Homo sapiens: one gene and its partners. The protein of the gene in region 1 interacts with the protein of each later gene in a biochemical or structural test. Each region holds a gene or a part of one and is shown on either strand. Other genes may lie near its edges. The genes, in order: TAPBP, TAP2 and TAP1.

The links.
Region 2: the proteins of TAPBP (region 1) and TAP2 form a complex in vitro, tested with the Homo sapiens proteins (one study listed by BioGRID).
Region 3: the proteins of TAPBP (region 1) and TAP1 form a complex in vitro, tested with the Homo sapiens proteins (one study listed by BioGRID).

What each region holds. Positions count from the first base shown.
Region 1 is NC_000006.12:33,311,079-33,318,757, reverse strand, and holds the start of TAPBP (tapasin isoform 1 precursor), read left to right. Parts: upstream 1-4,679; 5' UTR 4,680-4,716; coding exon 4,717-4,753; intron 4,754-4,893; coding exon 4,894-5,064; intron 5,065-5,280; coding exon 5,281-5,541; intron 5,542-7,679. Other genes in the region: DAXX (death domain-associated protein 6), read left to right, coding at 1-15; ZBTB22 (zinc finger and BTB domain-containing protein 22), read left to right, coding at 1,842-3,746. UniProt on the Homo sapiens protein: Involved in the association of MHC class I with transporter associated with antigen processing (TAP) and in the assembly of MHC class I with peptide (peptide loading).
Region 2 is NC_000006.12:32,824,915-32,828,860, reverse strand, and holds the end of TAP2 (antigen peptide transporter 2), read left to right. Parts: 3' UTR 1-3,446; downstream 3,447-3,946. UniProt on the Homo sapiens protein: ABC transporter associated with antigen processing. In complex with TAP1 mediates unidirectional translocation of peptide antigens from cytosol to endoplasmic reticulum (ER) for loading onto MHC class I (MHCI) molecules.
Region 3 is NC_000006.12:32,844,616-32,850,732, reverse strand, and holds the end of TAP1 (antigen peptide transporter 1), read left to right. Parts: intron 1-215; coding exon 216-413; intron 414-1,614; coding exon 1,615-1,743; intron 1,744-1,892; coding exon 1,893-2,081; intron 2,082-2,640; coding exon 2,641-2,814; intron 2,815-3,057; coding exon 3,058-3,220; intron 3,221-3,528; coding exon 3,529-3,665; intron 3,666-4,232; exon of another isoform or gene 4,233-4,947; coding exon 4,948-5,154; 3' UTR 5,155-5,524; downstream 5,525-6,117. UniProt on the Homo sapiens protein: ABC transporter associated with antigen processing. In complex with TAP2 mediates unidirectional translocation of peptide antigens from cytosol to endoplasmic reticulum (ER) for loading onto MHC class I (MHCI) molecules.

The DNA of each region.
Region 1 (7,679 bases):
TCAGACTCTGATTAGCTGCCTCCCCTTCTCCCTGCCTCCAGAATGTTCTGGGATAACATTTGGAGGAAGGTGGGAAGCAGATGACTGAGGAAGGGATGGACTAAGCTAATCCCCTTTTGGTGGTGTTTCTTTAAAAAAAAAAAAAAGCTTAAGTTTTACACAGAAACATTAATAAACAATAAAGTTCTTTTCTTACTGTATCACTGTCTTTTTCTTGTCCTTCTACTGTTACAGATTGGCATTAGCTGTCCCCTTGCTCAGGGTTAGCCCAGTATCCCCGGGGTAGTCCCGCTCTGTCCTTTCTAGCCTGGCCTTTTTTTTTTTTTTTTTTTTTTTGTCTCGCTGTGTCGCCCAGGCCAGGGTGCAGTGGTGAGATCACAGCTCACTGCAGCCTGGACCTCCCAGTCTCAAGCGATAATGCCTCAGCCTCCCGAGTAGCCGGGACTACAGGCGCGTGCCACCATGCCTGGCTAATTTTTGTTTTTGTTGTTTGTATTTTTTGTAGAGACGGGGTTTCGCCACGTTGTTCAGGCAGTACTTTTTTTTTTTTTTAAGTGCTTCAGCCGCCTTAACGCACTTTACTTTTTCACTTCGTGCAGTAGGAGTGAGAAAGCCAATGAGGGGCCGACTCAAGGTTATTTAGCCAATCCAGGCCCGGAGAAAGGGGGCGGGGCTTCAGTGGGACTGTAAGGAGCTAGGAAGAGGGCGATTAGATCCCACCAACCAGCTAATGGTCACAGCTCAGAGGCGGAGCCTGGGGAACGATACCTGGACCCATCGCCAATGGGAAAAGGCAGGCTTATAGCTTTAAAGGGGAATAAATGCTTCGGCCGAACCAAGTCCTGAGCTCCCAGCGGAGGAGGGGACCTGATCTTTTAAGGTGGAATGTGGCGATGTTTCTTTAAAGGCAAAGTGGCCGAGTCGGCCGAGTATTGCCCAGCGGCACGGGCGGGGTGCCCGGCTGTGCCTTTAAAGGCGGAGGGGCGGGAGGCGGAGCGGAGGCGGAGGGCGGAGGGAGTCGGCGCAAGATGGCGGCGGGAGGGGCCCAGGTTGCTGCTCTGGCCGCCGAGTGAGGGGCGGGGGGGGCCCGGGGGCGCGCGGCCCGGTAAGCGGGGACGCGCGAGGTTGGGGGGCGCCTTCCGGGTGGGAGAAGAGGCCGAGGTAGCGCTTGGGGCGGAGCGGGGGGGGGCGGGGTCCGTTGTGGGCGGAGGTAGACAAGGGGCGGGGTCGAAAGGCCCGATAGTGGGCGGGGCACGGGGGGGTGGGCCTGGAAAGGGGCGGGGCTAGAGAAGCTGGGGCGAAAGGGGGCGTGGTCGGCGAGAGAGCTTGGGGGGCATAGCCTGAGGGGAGATGGAGCAAGCGTTGGTTTTCAGTAGCAGAGCTGCCCTGCCCCCTCCCAAAAAGTGGGTGCAAAACACCAAAAAGGTAGATTTTGGAATGTCAGGCTCTCAGGTAAGTCGGAAATAGGGTATAATTCCGAAGGAAGCCACTCCAGCCCCTAAGAGCACCTTATTTCTCTAACCTCCAAGGAAAGGGCACAAGATTTGTCAGATACCTGTGTTTGCTGGCGCTGCCACTTGCTGTGTGACCTTGGATAATCTCTTAATCTTTCTGAGCTTTAGTTTCCTCATCTGTCAAATGGGGTTGAGAGGAATACCTACCTCACTGTTGTGGGGAGTTACACAGATAATGAGCGTGAACATATTTTTGAGTTGTAACGGGCTGTGTCGTTATGAGATGTTATCATTATTCTTTTCTCTTTTTCTTCCCAGAGACCCCCCCGGCCGCCCTCCTCCTTTCTTTGTTCCTGTGGCTGGGGGGGTATCCCCTCCCTCCACAACATGGAGCCATCTCCTCTGTCTCCCAGTGGGGCAGCACTTCCCCTGCCGCTGTCGCTGGCTCCGCCCCCACTACCCCTGCCAGCAGCTGCAGTGGTACATGTGTCCTTCCCTGAGGTGACCAGTGCCCTCTTGGAGTCCCTCAATCAGCAGCGTCTGCAGGGCCAGCTCTGCGATGTATCTATCAGAGTGCAGGGCCGGGAGTTCCGGGCTCATCGGGCTGTCCTGGCTGCCTCCTCCCCTTACTTCCATGATCAGGTCCTACTCAAAGGCATGACCTCCATCTCGCTGCCCAGTGTCATGGACCCAGGCGCCTTTGAGACTGTCCTAGCCTCCGCTTACACTGGCCGCCTCAGCATGGCTGCTGCTGACATTGTCAACTTCCTTACAGTGGGGTCTGTGCTCCAAATGTGGCACATTGTGGACAAGTGCACTGAACTACTCCGAGAAGGCCGGGCCTCAGCTACCACCACCATCACTACTGCTGCAGCCACCTCTGTCACTGTCCCTGGTGCTGGGGTGCCATCCGGGAGTGGGGGCACTGTGGCCCCTGCTACCATGGGCTCTGCGCGCTCCCATGCCTCCAGCCGGGCCAGTGAGAATCAATCTCCCAGCAGCAGCAACTACTTCAGCCCCAGGGAGTCCACTGATTTCTCATCTTCCTCCCAAGAGGCATTTGCAGCTTCTGCAGTGGGCAGTGGGGAGCGTCGAGGAGGTGGCCCTGTATTCCCAGCCCCTGTCGTTGGCAGTGGAGGGGCCACATCTGGAAAGCTGCTGCTGGAGGCAGATGAGCTGTGCGATGATGGTGGGGATGGGAGGGGGGCAGTGGTTCCTGGGGCTGGGCTCCGGAGACCCACCTACACACCCCCTAGCATCATGCCACAGAAACACTGGGTATACGTGAAGCGAGGTGGTAATTGCCCAGCGCCAACACCCCTGGTTCCCCAAGACCCAGATCTGGAGGAGGAAGAGGAGGAGGAAGATCTGGTGTTGACCTGTGAGGATGATGAAGATGAAGAACTAGGGGGTAGCTCCAGGGTTCCAGTGGGGGGAGGGCCTGAGGCTACCCTCAGCATAAGTGATGTCCGTACCCTGAGTGAGCCCCCAGACAAGGGGGAGGAGCAGGTCAACTTCTGTGAGTCCTCCAATGACTTTGGCCCATATGAGGGTGGGGGTCCTGTGGCAGGTCTTGATGACTCAGGGGGGCCAACTCCCTCTTCCTATGCCCCCTCCCACCCTCCTCGACCGCTCCTTCCCTTGGACATGCAGGGCAACCAGATCCTGGTCTTCCCGTCGTCGTCTTCATCCTCATCCTCACAGGCTCCTGGCCAACCACCAGGGAACCAAGCAGAACACGGGGCAGTGACCGTGGGGGGCACGTCGGTGGGGAGCCTGGGTGTGCCGGGTAGCGTTGGTGGGGTCCCTGGAGGGACTGGCAGTGGGGACGGGAATAAGATCTTTCTGTGCCATTGTGGGAAGGCCTTCTCCCACAAGAGCATGCGGGACCGGCACGTGAACATGCACCTCAATCTGCGGCCGTTTGACTGCCCCGTGTGCAACAAAAAGTTCAAGATGAAGCACCATCTGACTGAGCACATGAAGACGCACACAGGTCTCAAGCCCTACGAGTGCGGAGTCTGCGCCAAGAAGTTCATGTGGCGAGACAGCTTCATGCGCCACCGAGGACACTGTGAGCGCCGGCACCGCCTGGGCGGGGTCGGGGCCGTACCTGGGCCTGGGACTCCCACGGGGCCATCCTTGCCGTCCAAGAGAGAGTCTCCCGGAGTGGGCGGGGGCAGCGGCGACGAAGCGAGTGCGGCCACGCCCCCGTCCAGCAGACGTGTCTGGTCCCCACCCAGAGTCCACAAGGTGGAGATGGGCTTCGGTGGAGGTGGAGGAGCAAACTGAAGGGGCAGGCTACTGGGGTGGGGTAGCTTTCGGGAAAGGGAATAAGGAGCACGATGCAAGGGCGCTGTGGCCCCCGGGTGATCTCCCACCACACTTACTGTCTTCCTTTATCTCTGTGGACTTGTATATATTCTGGAAGGGGAACCACAGTTTCACCATCGCCCGCCCATTCTACTACTCAACCCCTCCCCCCCAAGGTATTTCCAGAACTAAACCCTTCCTTTCCCTCTGATGGGTACACTGAAGCCCCTGCTCCACAGAGTAGATTGCACATGGAGGGAGGGAGAGGGGGCGTGTTGAACATCCTGCAGTCACAGGGTCAGGGGTCAGGTGGTTGTAGTCTGTGCCTGAAGTCTGTGTTTGTGTTGTCGTGGAGACAAGGCCTTTGAGCCCCACCCTTGTCCTAGAACCTACCCCCTCTCAAGGATGCGCTCTTTATTTCTACCCTGTCTCTCCCCGCCACCCCCGACTTCCCGTGGAAATTCCCAACTCGGTTCTCATGGAGGAGTGGGTGGAGACAAGGAGGGAGTAAGTCGTAGGAGTACAAGGTTTTTATTTTTTTTAACAGTGATTAAAATATTTATTGGTCATTTACTTGGCTTCCCGATAACCCGTGTGTTTGCTGGGGACGCGGCACAGATAGGGGGAAGCCGGAGTAATGGTTTTCGGGCAAGTGGATGTTGGAGAGCACACACAGGAGTTGGGGGGCGGGGGAGGGCCTGGGGTTGGGGAGGGCTCGAACTCGGGGCTGCTGGGTAGTCCAGGAGGGCGCGGTAAGGCTGGGGTGTCCTGGTGAGAACTGGAGAGGATCTACCCGGGTCCCTGCCTGGCCAGTGGGGAAACACCGGTCCCCCAGGCACCTTCACCTAACCAGAGCGGGGATTTCCACCGCCCCTCATGCCGCCCTTTGGAGGAAAGTGAAAGTGAAAGGAGGAAGAGGAGGCTTCATGGCTGAGGAGGTCGCAGCGCCATGAAGTCCCTGTCTCTGCTCCTCGCTGTGGCTTTGGGTGAGCGAACCCCGCGACTCATCGCCCAAGAACTAGAGGGAAGCGGAGGGAGGTGGCCCCACTGGAGCCGATGCCAGGGTGGGAGTGGGGCAGGTCACCAGACATACAAACCGCTCCTCACTCGCGTCCCTATACGCCAGGCCTGGCGACCGCCGTCTCAGCAGGACCCGCGGTGATCGAGTGTTGGTTCGTGGAGGATGCGAGCGGAAAGGGCCTGGCCAAGAGACCCGGTGCACTGCTGTTGCGCCAGGGACCGGGGGAACCGCCGCCCCGGCCGGACCTCGACCCTGAGCTCTATCTCAGTGTACACGGTGAGTCTCTAGGGACTCGCCGCCCCCCTACCTCTGTCGCCTCCACCGAAACCCCCTCCTCTTTAGATCCGGCAGTGACCTCAGGCCTCAGCTTCCCCTTTGTAAAGTGAGTCTCACTACGGGGTAGTCTGTGCATTTGAAGTTCCCCGAACGCTGCCCTTCCAGCCCCTTTCCCGGCGGTGACTCTACAGCTGCAACTTCCTTCTCTACACTCAGACCCCGCGGGCGCCCTCCAGGCTGCCTTCAGGCGGTATCCCCGGGGCGCCCCCGCACCACACTGCGAGATGAGCCGCTTCGTGCCTCTCCCCGCCTCTGCGAAATGGGCCAGCGGCCTGACCCCCGCGCAGAACTGCCCGCGGGCCCTGGATGGGGCTTGGCTGATGGTCAGCATATCCAGCCCAGTCCTCAGCCTCTCCAGCCTCTTGCGACCACAGCCAGAGCCTCAGCAGGAGCCTGTTCTCATCACCATGGCAACAGGTAGCTGGGGAGGGGAGGTGGAGAAGGGTGGGTAGATTCTAAGGGTCCAGATCAGCCGGTGGTCTCGCTTTATGGACTTGAGCAAGACATTTCGCCAATCGGGGTTCAGTTTCCTTTTTTTGTTAAGAGAGGTGGTTTGGCTAGAATGAATCAATCTCTACCGCTCCTTCTAGCCCTCACCCAGTTAAAAAAAAAAAACAAAAAAAAAACTGCAGCTTGGCAGGGGGTAGGGGGAAAGCAGGGCCGGGCAGGGGGGTTACTTTCTGGTGTTTCGAAGGGCGGGGCTTTGAAGAGGTGGGGTTTCCCGACACCAGACCTTGAGAGACTTGTCAGGTGATGCGAGGTGGGAGGGGTTCAGAAGCAGGAGCGTTTTTTCTCTGCTCTTCCCAGATCTGTGTCTTGCTCTGCACCCTCAGCTTTGCGGGTCACTCTTTCAAAACCCAGCACTCTATCCCCACCTGCGCCCACACCCGGCGCTGCGGCAATCCGCAAAGCAAAGGCTCTTGCACTCTAGCGCGTTGACCTTGCCTGACAGCCCCGTGTAGGGATGTGCTGCCGCTCTGTGGTCCGCAAACAGGTGGGCTCGAGTGGGCGGATGGACGCGGCTGGAGATTGGATAGCTCCTATTGCACTGAAAGGTGCATTGCAGTTTGAGGCCCAGGAGTCAGAAGCTTTTCTAGGCTGGGACGTGGGAGGGACTGTGCAGATAATTCAAGAATGAGGAGAGTCTGACCTGGATATCTGGGAGCTCTCCCTCCTGGCAGCGGAGGCGGGGTATTCCGGGGTAGAATACCGGTAGAGTTCTTAGCTTTTCTATCTGGATTTTATGTCAGCGACACAGCCCGATGGACAGGGCAACCCCAACCAATCCCTGCACCCTCCCTTCCCTCCACCCTCCTGAGAATTACCCACAGAACCAGGGAGACAGACTTGAAACCCACGCTGAAACCCTCACCTCTGCCTATACCTCCATTCTTAGTCTCAAGCCCCCACCCTGGCAGAAGCTGAGGAACACTGCTCTTGTGTAGACAGTAGCTCTCTCTGGTGGGGTGGAATATTTCCTAGGGCTACTGGCTCCACCGAGGTGATGATGAGAATGGTCTTTGCTTTCTGAGTTTGTTTTTCCAACTGTAAAATGTGGATACTATTTCCCAGCTGCTTTTCTTGTTGTGACTATCAAGAGATGGCACTGTGTTAATTTATCCATTGATTCAATAAATACTTTTTAGCACCAAGAATGAGTTAGGACTCAGCAGTTCTCAGTCCACACTGTTGGAGGTTTCTAAAATATACTGAAACCTGATTCAATCCCATGCTTAGCTTGGCCGATTAAATCAGAATCTCTGGGGTGGCCCTGGGTGCCCTTAAGGGTCACAAAGATGATCTGATGTAGACTCTGCTCTCCAGGAGGTTCTGGGCGTATTTGCCACGGATAATCCTAATGTAAAGTAGAAAGTGAAGGACATGCAGACAGGGAGCCCTGGAAGTGCCCGGGTGGTAAGATTGTCTGTATTTCACAAACAACTGGGGTCAAAGCAAGGTGCTGTGCTATTTATTTATTTTTATTTTATTTATTTATTTATTTTTGAGACAGAGTTTTGCTCTTGTTGCCCAGGCTGGAGTGCAATGGCGTGATCTCACGCTCACCGGAACCTCCGCCTCCCTGGTTCAAGCAATTCTCCTGCCTCAGCCTCCCGAGTAGCTGGGATTACAGGTGCCTGCCACCACACCCAGCTAATTTTGTATTTTTAGTAGAGATGAGGTTTCTCCATGTTGGTAAGGCTGGTCTCGAACTCCCAACTTCAGGTGATCCTCCCACCTCGCCTCCCGAAGTGCTGGGATTACAAGCGTGAGCCACTGCGCCTGCCTGCTATTTATTTATTTATTTATTTTTGAGACGGAGTCTCCCTCTTATTGCCCAGGCTAGAGTGCAGTTGCAGTGGCATGATCTTGGCTCACTGCAACCTCCGTCTCCCATGTTCAAGCAATTCTTGTGCCTTAGCCTCCCCAGTAGCTGGGATTACAGGCTTGTGCCACCACGCCCACCTAATTTTTGTATTTTTATTGGAGACAGGTTTCACCATGTTGGCCAGGATGGTCTTGAACTCCTGACCTAAGGTGATCCACCCACCTTGGCC
Region 2 (3,946 bases), 490 kb from region 1:
GACTGAGGCCCCAGGGATACTGGGCCCTCTTCTCAGGGGCGTCTCCAGGACCCAGAGCTGTTCCTGCTTTGAGTTTCCCTAGAGCTGTGCGGCCAGATAGCTGTTCCTGAGTTGCAGGCACGATGGAGATTTGGACACTGTGTGCTTTTGGTGGGGTAGAGAGGTGGGGTGGGGTGGGGTGGGGGCTGTCTGTGTCCAGGAAACTTAATTCCCTGGTGACTAGAGCTTTGCCTGGTGATGAGGAGTATTTTGTGGCATAATACATATATTTTAAAATATTTTCCTTCTTACATGAACTGTATACATTCATATAGAAAATTTAGACAATATAAAAAAGTACAAAGAAGAAAAGTAAAAGTACCCATTGTTTCACTTCCTGGAGATAACCATAGTTGCTATTTTGCTGCCTGTCCCATCAGTCGTTTATCTGTTGTTTGAGATAGAAATTAACCAAAAATGACATAAATATTCATGAGATTGCCTTCCTATATCCTTCCTTGTTCCTACCAGTGTCTGCTATTTTGAAGAAGCTAGGGTCTGGAGGGACAGAGAACAGTTCCCTGATTAACAGTATTAATAGCGACATTGGTAACAGCTACCATTTATAGAGTTTTAATGGGAGTAGGAGCTATGCTAAGTGTTTTTCATGTATTATCGTTTTTAATCATTATCCCCAACCCTATGAGGTTGGTTATTATCCCCATTTTACAGATGAGGAAACTGAAGCTCAAAGAGGCTCAATGACTTTCCCAAGGTGGTCGTAGTGGTGGAGTTGGAGTTTGAACACAGGCCTGACCCTAGAGTCCACACCCTGACCCAATCAATTATATTGCATCTTGGGTCCATAAACCCTAATCCATAATCCCATCAAGAAAAGCTCTGCTGCTCTTAGCTCTAAATAATTCAGAATCTATTCTCTTCTCTCCAGTCCCGTTGTTATAGTCTTCACTCATAGACTTAAGATGATCCCATCACCAGAGAGGTTTCTCTACCATTAGCTTCCCTCTTCCGGCCATTCTTCACAAAGTCATTTTTCTAAATTCTGTGTCACATACGATGATGGCATTTCTGGAAATTCCTTCAGGTGCTCTCAAGCCCTGCTGCAGAGATCCTTTTCAGAGCACACACTGTTCCAGCCCATCTGTCTCACCCTCTCCTGTTGTATCCAGCTCCACGACAAACTTCTGCCTTCCCCAACACCTTTGTGCCTTTGCATATGGTGTTTTCTTGCCCATTTTCTGCTCGACTCGCCCCTGATTTTCAAGTTCAAGACTTAACTCAGGGTTCAGGTCTTCCAGGAGGCCTTACTTATGTCGTCAGTCTGGGGAACTCTCCATGTGCTTCTATCACTGTGCGGTTACCTCTTTCACAGCCCTTTTAAAGTTCTATCTTCCCTTTCCCACCTTTTTTGACCTTCCACTAGACCATGAGCACCTGGGCGGAAAGCCATATATCTTATTAAGCTTTATATCTGCTACCTGGCCGAGGGCCTAATTCATAGTGGAGAATAAATAGTCAATTGAATAAATGAATAAATATCTCCACCATCGTACTAATCTTAATCCTCCCTGCCCACTCCCACCACTGAAAATGCAACATTGTACACATCACTGGTTGTTGGGAGGGACTTACCTTGGAAAGTTGCTATTCTAGGAAAGAGAAACCTTCATATTCCTGGAAACAGCAGGTAGTTTCCAGTGCTGGCAATGAATTCCCCAGAACTGCTGTTTTGGATTTTTTCTTGCCTGGCAGCTGTTGGGAGCAGGGTGCAGTGAGGATGGGGTGAGAGTGGGCAGTTTCTTGTGCAGATTTGCCTTTCTTTCATCCTGGGGCTGACTTGCAGCTCCACACCCATCCATCTCTCAAATTTCACAGAGGGTAAAATAGGCATTTGGAGAGAAAGAACTCTGGCCTGATTCCTTTCTCTCCCACAAATGTCCTTTATTCATAAAACAGGAATAATAATTCCTGTATCTCCCAACTACATGGAAGCTGCAGCCCTCACAGAAGAAGATGATCTGAGAAATTCTTTGATTTCCTCAGTACAGTTATACCCATGCATCATAATACTTTAAGCCTGGAAGGCATCTTAAAAATAATGCAACAGTCAAACCTAATTTTACAGAGAAACTGACATGAAATCACGCAGCTAATCATGATAAAGCTGGGTGGAAAACTTATCTTGATGGGCAGTACAGGAAGATGCAGTAGACCTTAAGATGTCCTGAAAGTTTCTTATCTCAGGGGAAACTCCCAGGTAGGCTTTATGTCAGGGACACAGAAAAATGCTCCCTGAAAGTCAAAATATTCGGGCTAGACAGACAAATTCCTGTAAGTGTGGTTTGTCTGGGAACCACAGATGTCACTAATCCTGGTTTGCTCCAGAGTTCTTTTTGTTCACTCCTACCCCCCATCACCATTTGATTGATCTCCTTACCCTGTAATTTCCCCTTCTTGTCGCTTACCTGCAGTATCTTTCCCACCCAGGCATGCCTTATTCTTTCTAAAGGAAAGTATGAATGGAGAGGGGAAAGCTTGGGAAACTGATAGATTTCCTTGGATGCCAAAACACCTCCATAGCCTGTCTGCCCGGCCCTATGTGGAAACAGCATTGAGTTTCAAGTCCTTTATGCCTCCACCCAGGGATAGCCACTTGTAATCCACATGGCAATTGTGAAACAAGCAGGAAATGCGTAATTGTCAGAATTTTGTGGGGAAAGGACTAGGGAATAAGGAAAACAAAGATCTTCCTTGTGTTTTAGAGCTGTCAGCTAGAGGAGCACCTGCTTGAGTCTGATGCCATCTAATGGTCCCAGAAGAAACTGGGTTTTGAACCTAGAGTTCCATGGACTCTTAGGAATTAGACTACTACTACTACTAAGCATTCACTGGTGCTTACTATGTGCTATTGCTGTGCCAAGTATCTGAAACCTGTCTTCTTACCTTATTTTTCAAGATAATTCTATGTGGCAGGTATTACTATCTCAATTCTAAGAGTGAGAAAATGGAGTTTTAGAAACATTTACTAACTTGCCTGGGTCACATAGCTAAGGAAGAGGTGGACTTGCCCAGCTTTGCATAAAACTCCTCAAAAGAGTTGCCTATACTCCCTGACTCCACTTATCTTCCTACTATCCTCTTTTTAAAATATATTATTTATTTATTTAAATAAGCAATATATGAATGTGGTTTGAAATTCAAAAGACACAAAGAAGTATACAGAGGAAAGCCTCACTCTCAATCCTTCTCAAGGTTTGCTAATTCCTCTTGCATAGGCAATCCGTTCTTCCAGCTTTGTGTTTATCTTTCCAGAGAAGTTTACTGTGTATTAAGCAAATATGTATATCTTTATTCTTGCTCAGTATTTTCGCAAACAGCAGCTGTCTAAGTTCACTGTTCTGAACTTTATTTTTTAAATTAAAAATATATGGCTATGTAGTATTCTATTTTATGGAAGTTCCATATTTCATTTATCCTGTTTCCTTCTACTGATGGCTAGTTAGGTTATTGGAAGTCTTTTGCTGTTGCTAGTTAGTCTTGTATAGACATTGTAATGCACATGTGCAAAAATACAAGTATGATACAATCTTAAAGGGGAGTTGCTGAGTCCAATATATACATTACAAATATTGATAGATATTGCAAAATTGCCTTCATAGAGGCTATATTAATTTATAGTTCCAGCAGCAACATATGAGTTTATCTGTTTCTCCATATATATATATATGTATATAACCAACAGACAGTGTTAATTTTTAAAATTTTGACAATCTTCTGGGTGAAAGTAGCATTGTATTGTAGTTATCATTTGCTTTTTAATATTATCATGTAAGTAACAGAGATACTAAACCCAGAAGGATAAGGGAGCAAAGATGAGAAAAATAAACACACACACAAACAACAATAACAAATCTGTCTAAAATATTGGAAAATCAGAATGAGAAAT
Region 3 (6,117 bases), 470 kb from region 1:
CAATCTGTCTTTAAGAATTTGATCCCCAACCCGTTCTGAGTCATTTTCCTCTTCCTCGTATTTCTTTAGCATCCAAGGGGCATAGCTGTGTCTCTTTCTCTTTTCTCCTTTTCCTCTGTCTCTTCTCACCTTTAATTTCCAAATAGGTAACTCAGGTATTAGTGTCCCTGATGGTTTGCCAACCCGTGTGACATCTCTTGTCCATGTATCCACAGTTGCTGGAAGTGCAGGTGCGGGAATCTCTGGCAAAGTCCAGCCAGGTGGCCATTGAGGCTCTGTCGGCCATGCCTACAGTTCGAAGCTTTGCCAACGAGGAGGGCGAAGCCCAGAAGTTTAGGGAAAAGCTGCAAGAAATAAAGACACTCAACCAGAAGGAGGCTGTGGCCTATGCAGTCAACTCCTGGACCACTAGTGTGAGCACCTGAAGATGAATACCCATTCCCTTGTCCTTAAGATGCCGTGACTCCATTCCCATTCCTATGACCCTGCTCCCACTCCTCCTTTACTGGGAAATGGTTGGTTCAGTATTTTCGTCCTAGCAACCTGAGGCTCAATGACTCTACTCAGTGTCCCTAGCCCCCTCCCTCTCTTTAAAGATGCTAGGTGGCTTCCTTTCAGTATGGTACATAAAATCCACCCAACCATGTGGATTGGAGAGATGCGTGTCTTCCAGTCCTAGGGCCTTCCTTTGCCTCTCAGGGGAAGTGCAGGGCGCCATAAATTCTTGCACCTGGGACTGCTTCATGCTGGTACCTTGTAGATTTGTTAGTGAGAGTGATGGGAATAGTGGAAGCCAGGGATGAGGGACATCTGTGATGCACTGGAAAGAGAGCTACGCCAGTGATCCGAAGATCCTGGCTTGATGATGCAATTTACTTGTCTTGTGATCATGACAACAAATTTACCTTCTCTGAGACTGTTTCCTCTTTATTTATTTATTTGTTTGTTTGTTTGTTTATTTTTACTTATTATTATTATTTTTGAGCTGGAGTCTCGCTTTGTCGCCCAGGCTGGAGTGCAGTGGCGCGATCTGGGCTCACTGCAAGCTCCGCCTCCCGGGTTCACGCCGTTCTCCCGCCTCAGCCTCCTGAGTAGCTGGGACTACAGGCACCCGCCACCACGCCCGGCTAATTTTTTTTTTTTTTTTGTATTTTTAGTAGAGACGAGGTTTCTCCGTGTTAGCCAGGATGGTCTCAATCTCCTGACCTTGTGATCCGCCCACTTCGGCCTCCCAAAGTGCTGGAATTGCAGGCATGAGCCACTGCGCCCGACTGGTTGTTTCCTCATTTTTCAAAAATGGAGTGATATAACCTTCTTTATAAGGCTCTTCATGTATTAGCTGACATCACATGAATGAAAGCCTTTTGTGAAGAGTAAAATGCTCCCCAGACAAGGTGATAGTGGTGATGGTGGTGAAGATAACTGTGACTTGCATGATGTGCATTGAGTCAGACTCCATGGGGTCTCTGGTTCATTCTCCTGTCTGCCTATTGAGCCTGCCGATGTCACTTAGGAGACAGGGACTTGATATTTCCTTCAGGTTAATGACTGCGGTTCTTTGTGTCCCCTCCAGATTTCTCTACCTCAGTCCCTTTTTTTGTGGTCTCTTTATAGATTTCAGGTATGCTGCTGAAAGTGGGAATCCTCTACATTGGTGGGCAGCTGGTGACCAGTGGGGCTGTAAGCAGTGGGAACCTTGTCACATTTGTTCTCTACCAGATGCAGTTCACCCAGGCTGTGGAGGTGAGGTCCCTCCACCTTCACTCCCCAGTGTGATTCCTTCCTCTGGCCCAGCACCATCTGTGTGATGTCCTTCCATTCTTTACCCTTCTTGCTTCACATAATGCTGGCAAGCAGACTACCTCACTTTCACTATTCTTACCTCCCTCTAGGTACTGCTCTCCATCTACCCCAGAGTACAGAAGGCTGTGGGCTCCTCAGAGAAAATATTTGAGTACCTGGACCGCACCCCTCGCTGCCCACCCAGTGGTCTGTTGACTCCCTTACACTTGGAGGGCCTTGTCCAGTTCCAAGATGTCTCCTTTGCCTACCCAAACCGCCCAGATGTCTTAGTGCTACAGGTACAACCTACCACTCCCTGTATTCCACTGGCCCCAACTGCAATTCTGCCATCCTAAATTTTCTTCCTGCCTTCAGCCTGCTTACTGCCAAGCATATATCCTCCCTAACCCTTTAAAGGCAATGGTAGGCATCATCTGTTCCATAAATCTTCCCCAAACTCAAGAACCCAGTTTGGGCTTCCAAAGAGAATGAGAGAAGAGGTTTCGAAGAGAGTGCTCTCACGTTCCAAGGAATTGCTGCAGCAAAATCTGTGTCTTCGGTCTTCCATCTTTCCTTTTCCTTTGTAATTTGGAATGTGATTTTTCCCTTTCCTGGTGGTATCTGACATCAAGTGTGTGGCATAGTGGTGCTGGGTCTCTGCCCTTGTCTTTGCCGCTTCTTCTATCTCTACTCCTTGGGGAGGCATCACCCAGAAATCTGTGCATGTGGGAGGGTAGGAGTTTCTATATTTCCCTGTTTTTCTTCTGGGGTAAGACATCATGCTATGTAACAAGGCAATGACACTCTCAAGGTTAGAGGCCTTGGTAGCCTCTTATCGTGTGCTTCTCTGGCCTCTAGGGGCTGACATTCACCCTACGCCCTGGCGAGGTGACGGCGCTGGTGGGACCCAATGGGTCTGGGAAGAGCACAGTGGCTGCCCTGCTGCAGAATCTGTACCAGCCCACCGGGGGACAGCTGCTGTTGGATGGGAAGCCCCTTCCCCAATATGAGCACCGCTACCTGCACAGGCAGGTATGGAAGCAGGTGGCTTGAAGGAGGGCAGGGAGCATCAAATACGAAGAGCATTCTTACTGAGCACTCTGAAAGAGGGGTTAGGGAATGATAAGAGACCTTGGGTGGAGATGGTGGTGTAGTCAGGAGGGAGGTAGTATGATTTTGTGACATGTTCTCAATAAAGATTTTGAGTCTTCGATCTCTAGATAACCATACTCCCATGTGCCTTGTTCTATGACTCTTCATCATATTTCATCTCAGGTGGCTGCAGTGGGACAAGAGCCACAGGTATTTGGAAGAAGTCTTCAAGAAAATATTGCCTATGGCCTGACCCAGAAGCCAACTATGGAGGAAATCACAGCTGCTGCAGTAAAGTCTGGGGCCCATAGTTTCATCTCTGGACTCCCTCAGGGCTATGACACAGGTACTCTCTCCACTCATCTCACCACCCAGCCATCTTTACCTTTGCTGAAACCCCAGTAGTCTTGCCTTTATCCTTCAGTTCCTCCTTACTCATGGACATCAATTTGAAGTTGTAAGATCATGCTCCTATGGCTTCTTCATCCTGACATCCTCAGGATTCTGTTCATCTTCCCAGAATCTCCCCTATCCAGCTACAACCGTCAGATCTTGGTGTGTGTGAGTGCGTGAATGCATGAGTGTGTCTGTGTGCATGTACATGCGTGCACACATGTGGCTATACCGTTCTCATCTTGGCCCTTTGCTCTGCAGAGGTAGACGAGGCTGGGAGCCAGCTGTCAGGGGGTCAGCGACAGGCAGTGGCGTTGGCCCGAGCATTGATCCGGAAACCGTGTGTACTTATCCTGGATGATGCCACCAGTGCCCTGGATGCAAACAGCCAGTTACAGGTGAGGCAGTCATCTTCTTAATGGCTATATCCCACCCAATCTTGCTTCTTTTATACATCTTCTGTTAGTTTTACTAACATCATAATTATACAAACCAGTCCTTGCAGTTCTCAGTTCCCAAATCCAGTTCCATTGGATGCCTCCCCAAGGAGTAGAGATAGAAGACGAGGCAAAGACACCTAGAATCAGTTAAAAGAGACTATCTACAAACTACAGACTGAATTTCTTTCTTTCTTTCCTTTTTTTTTTTTAAGACAGTGTCTCACTCAGTTGCCCAGGCTGGAGCGCAGTGGCACAATCTTGGCTCACTGCAGCTTCAACCTGCTGGGCTCAAGCGATTCTCCCCTCAGCCTCCCGAGTAGCTGGGACTACAGGTGTACACCACTATGCCTGGTTGACTTTTATATTTTTAGTAGAGATGGGTTTCACCATGTTGCCCAGGCTGGCCTTGAATTCCTGAGCTCAGGTAATCTGCCCCCCTCAGCCTCCCAAAGGGCTGGGGTTATAGGTGTGAGCCACTGCGCCCAGTCCTATAGACTGAATTTCTAAAGCGAAACATAAGGAAAAGACCATCCTCATAATATCGTTTATTTAAAAAAATTATTTTTTGTACAGACAGCGTCCCGCTATGTTGCCCAGGCTGGCCTTGAACTCCTGGGCCCAAGTGATCCTCCCTCCTTGACCTCCCAAAGTGCTAGGATTATAGGCATGAGCCACCGGGCCCAGCCCATCCTAATCATATTAATATTAATTAAGCTAGTCTGTTTACATGCACTGTCACTCATTTATTCATTAGGAATCCTTCTGAGCTAGGCATTTATCATCATTCTACAGATGACAAAATGGAGGTTAAAAGAGGTTGAATAAGCTGCTCATATAGAGGTCATATAGCTTTTGAGTGGCGCAGCCTTGACCCAAATTCAGGTCTGCCTGACTTGAATGCTCATCTCTTTACTACTAAGTTATATTTCCTTAAAATCGAATATAAAAATGCCAAGTCCATGGGTAGAGAAGAGGACTATTCAATAGTCTTTATTCTTCTGTCACGTGTTTCACCCTAGGGTTCTCATTTTTATCCTACTTTTGCACCCTTCATGTAAAACAGTCCTTAATGAAACAAAGGGTTTGCGGAGAAGTACTCAGAATGGGAAACGTTGGTGTCCTTGGGGTTGTTAGCAGAGCCAGCAGTGATCCTGTGAGGTCAGTCCCAGCCCTGGAAACACAGGTGTCTCCCTGGGCTGAGGGTAGTCCCCGGCTCTGACGGTCCGATGTCTTTCCTCAGGTGGAGCAGCTCCTGTACGAAAGCCCTGAGCGGTACTCCCGCTCAGTGCTTCTCATCACCCAGCACCTCAGCCTGGTGGAGCAGGCTGACCACATCCTCTTTCTGGAAGGAGGCGCTATCCGGGAGGGGGGAACCCACCAGCAGCTCATGGAGAAAAAGGGGTGCTACTGGGCCATGGTGCAGGCTCCTGCAGATGCTCCAGAATGAAAGCCTTCTCAGACCTGCGCACTCCATCTCCCTCCCTTTTCTTCTCTCTGTGGTGGAGAACCACAGCTGCAGAGTAGGCAGCTGCCTCCAGGATGAGTTACTTGAAATTTGCCTTGAGTGTGTTACCTCCTTTCCAAGCTCCTCGTGATAATGCAGACTTCCTGGAGTACAAACACAGGATTTGTAATTCCTTACTGTAACGGAGTTTAGAGCCAGGGCTGATGCTTTGGTGTGGCCAGCACTCTGAAACTGAGAAATGTTCAGAATGTACGGAAAGATGATCAGCTATTTTCAACATAACTGAAGGCATATGCTGGCCCATAAACACCCTGTAGGTTCTTGATATTTATAATAAAATTGGTGTTTTGTACTGTGGTTTCTTATGTTTCCGGCACACCAAACGGCCCACTGCCTTTTGCAGCGCACTTTTCAGCTGCGGATGTCTCCTCTTTTATCATCCTCAATGTTTTACCCCCTAACTGCATCACCTTTTCCCTTAAGCTTTTTAATTCCTATGAGGCCCCTTCCACTTCCCCTATCCCCTTAGGCCCACCCCCAAGAATGTGCAAGACCCCAGCCACAGGGCCCATCAGGGCACTAGCGGCCGCAGCTCAGAGCCGTGGCCTCTCCGAAGTGGCAGATGGGGCGGGCGCGGCCAGAGCAAGTGCCAGGCGGGAACAGAGGGACTGGGCGCGCCTCACAACTCACCACCTCGCCCGCTGGTCCTTCCTGGCTCGCCTGGCTCTGAAGCTGCACCTGGAGGGGAAACCTCAGAACAGTAGGCGGGATTGCCTAGTAAATATCTCCCATTCAGGGAGGCCCAGGTCGTGTGACGTCGACAGTTGCTGGGTAGATGAGGCCAACACAGGTTGCAAGAAGAGGCGGGGTTTAGAGGCGTGAAACTCCGCAGTGCTCAGCCAAGCAGGGAGCAACGCTAGGAAGGGCGGGCAGAAAGGGCACGCT